Regions from separate parts of the Homo sapiens genome. Here region 2 is linked to region 1. Evidence: fine-mapped expression QTL. A gene starts in region 1. The other region holds a variant in brackets. All regions are shown on one strand. Distances are from middle to middle. Region 1 holds the start of CAT (catalase). Region 2 overlaps ELF5 (E74 like ETS transcription factor 5).

Evidence for each region. PIP is the estimated chance that this variant, and not a neighbour inherited with it, causes the effect.
Region 2: its variant is the best candidate, but not a certain one, in a credible set for the expression of CAT in lung (TOPMed, PIP 0.72).

Annotation. Positions count from the first base shown.
Region 1 is chr11:34,436,473-34,440,873 of GRCh38, forward strand. CAT (catalase) reads left to right here and starts at 2,462. Exons shown (of 13, transcript NM_001752.4): 1 at 2,462-2,607. The coding sequence starts at 2,542. RefSeq lists enhancers at 2,275-2,324, 2,495-2,794.
Region 2 is chr11:34,481,204-34,485,604 of GRCh38, forward strand. ELF5 (E74 like ETS transcription factor 5) reads right to left here. Exons shown (of 7, transcript NM_001422.4): 5 at 1,228-1,296. Among named protein-coding and RNA genes, the nearest start is that of ELF5, 30 kb to the right of the region's middle. The variant C/T (reference allele first, on the strand shown) is at 2,088.

The sequences.
Region 1 (4,401 bases):
CATGGTCTACTTTGCAAGCTTGGTTTCAAATTTGTTGATACCAGGATTAATAACAGTATGTCTTGTGCCAGTATATTTTATTTTCATTGAGTTCTGAAAATTGACTTCAGAGAACAGCATTTTTAAAATAACATTTTTATTTATATCAATAAAAATACCCATGAATTCATATGACTAAAATATTAAAACCTAGAACCCAATTTGTTTACCTAACCAATCACTTGCAATTACCTTTAGGTAATTGTATTGGTTTGGTTTCAAGTATTTTTTAACTAGGGCTGATTTTAAGAAGTGTTTTCATTTAAGCTGTAATTATAGTCGATAGAACTTCCACCTAATATGTGACTTTTTTTAATTTTTAATTTTTTTGAGATGAAGCCTCACTCTGTCACCCAGGCTGGAGTGCAGTGGCACAATCTTGGCTCACTGCAACCTCCGCCTCTTGGGTTCAAGTGATTCTCTCGCCTCAGCCACCTGAGTAGCTGAGACTACAGGCGTGTGCCACCACGCCCAGCTAATTTTTGTATTTTTAGCAGAGGTGGGGTTTTACCATGTTGGCCAGACTGGTCTCGAACTTCTGGCCACAAGTGATCCGCCTGCCTCGGCCTCCCAAGGTGCTGGGATTACAGGCGTGAGCCCCCGCACCCAGCCTCCTATGTAACATTATAAATTTATTGTCATTACTTGTAAGCCTGCCCTTTATTTTAAAATACAAGATATGACAAGATCAGAAACCAGTCTTGTTTCTCCATTTCTTTCTCTAGAAATAATTCTTTAGGAATTCAAATCCATAGTAACAAAAACAAAGGAAAAAAAAACATGCTTTTTTTTATATAATGAATAAAGGTTAAGAAATGACTCCAGGTCTCTTATTTATTTTGTTGATATTTGTGTTGGTTAGTTAAGAAGATGATTTGCTCGATTATTTCAACATTTATTTATTCAACAAACTGTGGACTTTGGAGATGAACAGCTGAAGCTAGAATCCTGACTATCCCTTAATAGCTGTGTAACTTTGGGCAAGTTATTTAACCTCCCTATACCTCTGTTTCCTAATCTGTAAAATGAAGATAATATTAGTATCTAACTCATAGGGTTGTTGGGAGGGTTAACTAAGCAAATATACAAAAAGCTGAGAATAGTCCCTGGTATATAGTAAGTGCTCAATAAATTATGGATGGGAGGATCCTGACCCACATGGAGTTTACAGTCTTGGCAGTATGGATCGGGCAGGTAGAAAAAGACACCAAATTACACAGCCAACAGCATCTTTATAATTGTTTTTAATATAGGAAAAGTATAGGGTGCTAAAGATCAATTTGTGGCTTTCTTTTCCAATGAACTGCTAAAGTTCCACTTTTATGCCCAAGATTCTTATCATACTTTTGTAAGATCAAGAACAACATGTGAAGTTTCCACTATTATATATCCACCCATTATATGTAGTTGTACTGGAAAAAATTAAAAGCTGATAACTTTTAATTTGAAGATGATGGTATATACTATGTATATATATTAAGGTGCTTAAAGATAAATCCTAGCACCTGAGGAGGTGTAGAAATCATTCAAACTCTTTGATTACAATGACAAACTAGTCAGTAACTTACTAAATATTGTACTATATATTACTAAGTATTTTACTCTTCAACATAGCTTTTTAAAGACACAAAGCTTTTCAAAATTCCTGCTTACCTGGGGGTAAAATTTGGGGAAGCAGATTTCTCCAGTGTTTAAAGAAGCCAATTTGGCAGTGTACCAGAGTTGAATACATTTTTCCCATCACAAGGGAATACATTTTTCCCATCTAAGTTAAGTTGTTTTTCTCTGGTAAAGGAGGAAATCAACACCCATCTGTACGGAGATAAACGTTTCAGAGTGTTTTTATATTAAATAATTAGTATACTAGTCTAGTAAGTGATAATCCACGAATAAGTTAAGAAGAGCTAAGAAAGAAAAAGAAAAGCATCCATCCATCCTTTGGTTGCAAATAATACTTACATTAGCGTATGGCAAAATTTAATTTTGTACAGAGTAATTTAACCCAGGATTGCTGACTTTTTAAGAGCTGAGAAAGCATAGCTATGGAGCGCAAGGCCCCACCCAGCAGGGTCTAAGTATTCCGTCTGCAAAACTGGCAGGCCACCAACGGCCGCGTCCCAGGGCGGCCTGAAGGATGCTGATAACCGGGAGCCCCGCCCTGGGTTCGGCTATCCCGGGCACCCCGGGCCGGCGGGGCGAGGCTCTCCAATTGCTGGGCCAGAGCGGGACCCTTCCTTTCCGCACCCTCCTGGGTATCTCCGGTCTTCAGGCCTCCTTCGGAGAGCCCTGCTCCGAGCCCATTGGGCTTCCAATCTTGGCCTGCCTAGCGCCGAGCAGCCAATCAGAAGGCAGTCCTCCCGAGGGGGCGGGACGAGGGGGTGGTGCTGATTGGCTGAGCCTGAAGTCGCCACGGACTCGGGGCAACAGGCAGATTTGCCTGCTGAGGGTGGAGACCCACGAGCCGAGGCCTCCTGCAGTGTTCTGCACAGCAAACCGCACGCTATGGCTGACAGCCGGGATCCCGCCAGCGACCAGATGCAGCACTGGAAGGAGCAGCGGGCCGCGCAGGTACACTCTGTGCTCCCCGAGCGGGCCCGAAGGTCCGTTTAGAAAGCGGGGGCGTCGGCAAGTAAAGGCCCGGCTTCCCCCGGGGCGGCGCTTGGAGGGACTGTACCGCGGCTCACTGGGCAGGGGGGATCCCCTTCGGTGCAGACGGACTTTTACATTCGCCGAAGCAGGGGAGGGGGGTCCGGGTAGTGGGGCGCGGGACTGCAGGCTTTGTTGTCCGCGACAGGCTCGGGTGGTTGCTTCAGAATTTTGCACTTTTGCCAACTGGGACAGAGGTCGCAGCTTGAGGACAGATTGAGGGCTCATGGGGAAAGAGGCAGAGAGCTGCAGCTGCAAGGAAGTCAGTGAGGGGAGAAGTGGAACCAGGCTCTAATGGTGCCCTTCTTGAAATACTGTTTACACGCTTTCATAGTTGTGGGGTCCCAGCAGGGCAGGGATTGTGTTTTACAATCTTGAGGTCTCCAGCACCAGTCACAGTGACTGGTACGTACTATGCACATTATTAAACGACTAAATAAAAGAACTTTTACATTCATTGTCTCATTTGCACTTCAAAATGTCAAGCCTAGCATTTTAGAGCTGGGGGGTGACATTAGGGATTGATTAATGCGTTTATTCTATTCTTTGAGCACCTGTAGGTGCTAGGCACTGTTCGGGGCAAGGTGTACAAATTCCAGTGCGGCAAGAACAACACCCTTGAGAAGCTGAGAGTCTAGTCTGGGAGACGAGACACATAAACAGATGATTACACTCCAGCGTGGTGAGGGCTCTAATAGAGGTTATCTGTAGAATGTAGAGGGAGTGACCAGGTGGGCCGGACAAAGCAGGTGACATTTGAACAGGAATTTTTTTAAATGAGTAGGATTTTAACTTGGTGGTGGGGGAGGCATTCCTGGCCTGTGCCCACGGCTGCAGAGTCTCAGAGGGCATCTATGAGGAGGTTGGATTAGATGAGACCACATCTGGTCTGAGTCTACTGTTGGCAGATTGGCCCAGGGAGTCTAAAGGTCTTGCCCTGTTCCCTGGCTGCTGGTTAATGGTAGACAGAGGACTGCAGCCCTGTTTTCCCTATTCTGCCTAGTGCTCTTGCTCAAAACTCAGGTTCGTGAACTGGGGTATTAATGCTAAGTGCTCATGGATTGCTTTAATGGTTCCCTGTTTGGGAAAAGGCTGCCATTCTCCTCCAAGGGCCTGGAAAATCTCCCCTCTTGGCCCTGTTCTTTGTTATATACCATTAGGTTGGTTCATGAGCTCTTAAAGTAAACCAGAGAGAGGTAGAGTCTTAGTAAAGGATGTGCCACTACTTAGTGGCAGAGACAAGGTTAGAATTCAGCTTCTTGGACCCAAGACTCTTTCCTTACCCAGTGGGTGCAAATCCTGGTTCACACTGAAGTTTTCATGAATACTCGGTGAATTGAGAAAAGTGTGGACAAAGTAGTGAGATTTTTACAAAACAAAATATTTTCTTTTTCTTTTTCTTTTCTTTTCTTTTTTTTTTTTTGAGACGGAGTCTTGCTCTGTTGCCCAGGCTGGAGTGCAGTGGTATGATCTCCACTCACTGCAAACTCCGCCTCCCGGATTCAAGCAATTCTCCTGCCTCAGCCTCCCGAGTAGCTGGGATTACAGGTGTCCACCACCACACCCAGCTAATTTTTGTATTTTTAGTAGAGATGGGGTTTCACCATGTTGGCCAGGCTGGACTGGAACTCCTGACCTCAGGAGATCTGCCCGCCTTGGCCTCCCAAAGTACCGAGATTACAGGTGTAATATTTTCATTTTTAAAGGACTCCCCTT
Region 2 (4,401 bases), 45 kb after region 1:
AGTAGAGATGGGGTTTCGCCATGTTGACCAGGCTGGCCTCGAACTCCTGACCTCAGGTGTTGTACCCGCCTCAGCTTCCCAAAGTGCTGGGATTACAGGTGTGAGCCACCGTGCCCAGCTTGTTTTTTTAATTTTAAGAGAAGAGATGTACAATTTCTCACTAGGTCATGAGAATTGCTGCTTTGTGGAATATTTCCCATTGTTATGACTGATTGCTCTACCTGGAAACTTACTGAGCTGTGACATGTCTGTGTCTCCCATCGAAGCAATTGTGAAACACACATTCAGAGACACCCAATTTACATGACTGGCAACACTGTGACTCACAGATGTTCTATGGAACTACAGTTTAACTTTTATGGAATGAGTGAAATGACAGTCAAATGATCTTTTCATTCTTCTTTCTGACAGGCAGCATGGTTGTACTGATTCCACAGCCACAACTGTCTGGGTGGACTGATCCTGCAAATTCGTTTTTCATGAAAGGCTGGTATTTCTCTTATTCTATGATATGGTGGTTAAGACCAGCTCTGGAGTCCCATTATCTGAGTCTGGGTCCTGAATTCACCTCTTCCTACCTTTATAACCATAAACTTTTAGGGTTGCTTCATCTATAAAATGGGATAATAAAGAGTACCTGTCTCCTAGGACAGGTTAGAGGATTTAATGATTTAATACATACCAAGTGGTTAGAATTATGCCCAGCACATAGCAATTGTTTTCTACACACACATTTGTGAAATTACAAGCTTGACACTGCTCTGGGCCGATCTCTTAGTGCTGGGGAAGCTAATAGGATTGCCAATTCCCGGTGTTTTCTTTGTTATCCTCCTCTGAGATGAAGCCACAGTGGACCCAGGATTGGATCTGGCGCCAGATGGTGGAGCCAGAACTTGAACCCAGGGGGTTTTCATTCCAAAGCTAATGTTCACAACTACGATCATGTCTTTCATAGTAGGTGTTCAATAGACATTTAATGGATAATTATTAGCTATGATTTGTTTAGCGTTTGCTATTGTCAGATGCTTAATCTCACCCACTCGTATGAGAAGAAATCAATCTGACTTTGATAATACGTATAAAAGCAATCACTGATTTCTTTACTACCTTCCTTGGGGAGTAACTGGTCCAACTCAAACATTTAGTTTCAAAGCTTATTAAAGTAGATGACTTTGTCTGAGGAATGGTTTTAAGAAATTAGAATGAAAACTGGCATCCTGCACTTACTTGTTCTACTATGACTGTGACAGTCTTGACTTTTGATGCCACTTGTTTTCAAGCAGTTGGAATCAGCATCTGAAATAGAATAATTTATAGCAGTGGAAAGGGATATAGAGGCCACATTCAGACCTCAAGTCATACCCAAATGAGCAAATACTAATTGAATGCCTTTGTAGTAGAAGACACCACATTAGGCACTTTGGGGGTGATTACTAGGTGGCAGGTGTCAAGATGCTTTAAGATGTGCCTTTGAGGAGCACTTGTATTCAATCTCACCCCACCCTGATGAGAATAAATAAATCTGGTTTTGATCGAGGTCCGTGCAGGGCCTTCCTAGGAGGCCATGGTAAGGACTTGGGACTTTATATCAAAGTGTAGAGCAAAGATCCTCAATTTAAGAAGATCTCTCTTGCTCCTGTGTGGAGAACAGACTGGAAGAGACACAAGTAGAAGCAAAGAGACTAGAGCTTATGAAGGGTAGAAAGCAAGACGTTAACTCCGTGCTGATTTAACTAATAACTCAGGCTGTGAGTCACAACCTGAGACACCAGGACAAGCATTGCCAGAGTAGTATATGAGTTTTTAAAATGGTGGCACCAGATCTGCCCCTCCAGCTCACACTCGTCTCCACCGCTTCTCTTAGCCCCCTGCTTGCTTTGCCCCAGCCACCCTGGCTTCAGGCTCTCCAGAAACGTGCAGGCACATTCCACATCAGGGACTTCGCAGTTGCTCTTCCACTTGTCCTGCACGTTGTTCCCTTGGATACTTGTGGTGCACGCCCTCATCTCAATCCTGTTTCAAAATCACCTTCCAGTGAGGTCTCCTCTGACCACTCAAGTTGGGTCTGCACATCCTCCCCACTGCTC[C/T]GCATTTTACATAGAATATTCGAGCATATTCTATGGTGTATTTATTCATGAAGTTCACTGTCTGTCTGTGCACACGAGGGGGCAGGGATTTGTGTTTCCCAACATAACCCTGCAGCACCTAGCACACTGCCGGGCATATAGTAGGTGCTCAGTATCATCGAGCAGCCACTGTGCTATGCTATAGTAACTGTACTGCACCACACTATACTAACTATACTGTTCTATACCACTCCATACTGTACTATGCTAACTATATTGTACTATACCACACCATACTGTACTATACTAACTATACTGTACTATACCACACCATACTGTACTATATTATACTAACTATCCTGTGCTGTACATACTATGCTGTACTAACTATACTGTACTGTAGCATACTATACCAACTATACTGTACTGTACCATGCTATATTAACTATGCTATACTGTACTATACTATACTACACCAACTACATTATACTGCACTATACCATACTAACTATACTGACTGTACTGTAGTATACCATGACAACTATACTATACTATATCATACTGCACTGTTCTGTACTGCACTATACTAACTATTCTATTACTGTACTGTACTAACACCATACTACAGTGTACTATACTATACTAACTGTACTGTACTGTACCAACTATACTATATTGCATTACACTGTAGTATACTATATTTACTGTACCACACTATACTGTACTATACTATATTAACTGTATTGTACTGTACTAACTATATTGTATTATACTGTAGTATACTATACTAACTATACTGTACTGTGCTATACTATACTGTACTGTATTATACTAACTATACTGCACTGTACCAACTATACTATATTGTATTATACTATAGTATACTATACTAACTATACTGTACTGTGCTATACTATACTGTACTGTATTATACTAACTATACTGCACTGTACCAACTACACTATATTGTATTATACTGTAGCATACTATACTAATCATACCACACTATACTGTAATAACTGTACTATACTATACTAACTATACTGTACCATATATTGTATTCTACTGTACATACTGTACTATATGAACTAGACTGCACTAACTATACTCTACTGTACTATACTATACTAACTATACTGCACTATACTATACTAACTATACTGCACTGTACTGTAGTATACTAACTATACTGTACTGTGCTACACTATACTAACTATACTATACTATACTATACTATACTATACTATACTATACTATATTATACTGTACAACTATCCCTGCTGCATCGTCTAGTATGTACACTGTCACTGCTGAATGAAGGAAGGGCAGGAATGACATCCTGTGCCCCACACTGCTGCTTAGGGTGACCTCTCTCAGTGCCACTGGGTCATGTCACCTCGCCAGCTGAACATCCTGCAGTGGTTCCCCATTTCTTCCAGGATGAAGGCTGCACATTAGATAGGCCTTTCACAGACTGACCCCCATCCAGATCTCCAGTCTTATCTCTTTCTGCTTCCCAACTTTTTCCCTTCCCTTAGGTCAAATGGTTCCATTGAGGCAAGGCTTTCTTCTGCCTCAGGACCTTTGCACAGACTCCCCACTCTCCACTTCTACCCAGCGGACCTCTCACAAGACCTCTTCAGGAAGCCTTCTCTGAACTGACCCTCTGGGTTAGACCCCTTATGAGCCCCATAGAGAGCACCTGTGAGTTCCTTGGTATCACAACACTGGGCCTACCTTACTGGAAAGATCCATCTCTTTTTCTCCTCCACTATCAGCTGATATTTACGGAGCACTTACTAAATGCCAAGTGCTTGGTAAGGGCTTCACATAGAGTATCTCATTTCAAACTTATAACAACCCTGGGTGATACTATTATGATTTTCATTTTATTGAGGAGGGATTGGAAGTCCAGAGAGCTTAAGAATCTTTTCCAGATGGTGGAACCAGAGAGTTCTCATTGCAAAGCTAATGTTCATAACTACTACTTTATCATGTCTTTCACAGCAGGTGTTCAATAGACATTTAATGAACCATTATTAGCTAAGATTTGTTGAGCATTTGCTATTGTCAGATGCTCACTCAACCTTCCCCACCCTTATGAGATATGTCTATTACTACCCCCAGATCGATCTGTTGTTTTGATTTAATCTTTTAGGAGAAGAGAAAACAAATGGAGTCATAAACAAAGGTGAATTATTAAGTGTGAATAGACAACAAGCGTTCACTGAAATGCCAAAATGGCAAGAAGTGGGAGGAAAAACATTGTCCTTTTGATTTTAATGATTTCTCCCATGTTTTGGATGAAGGGGATCTGGCTTGGTAGGAGGAACAC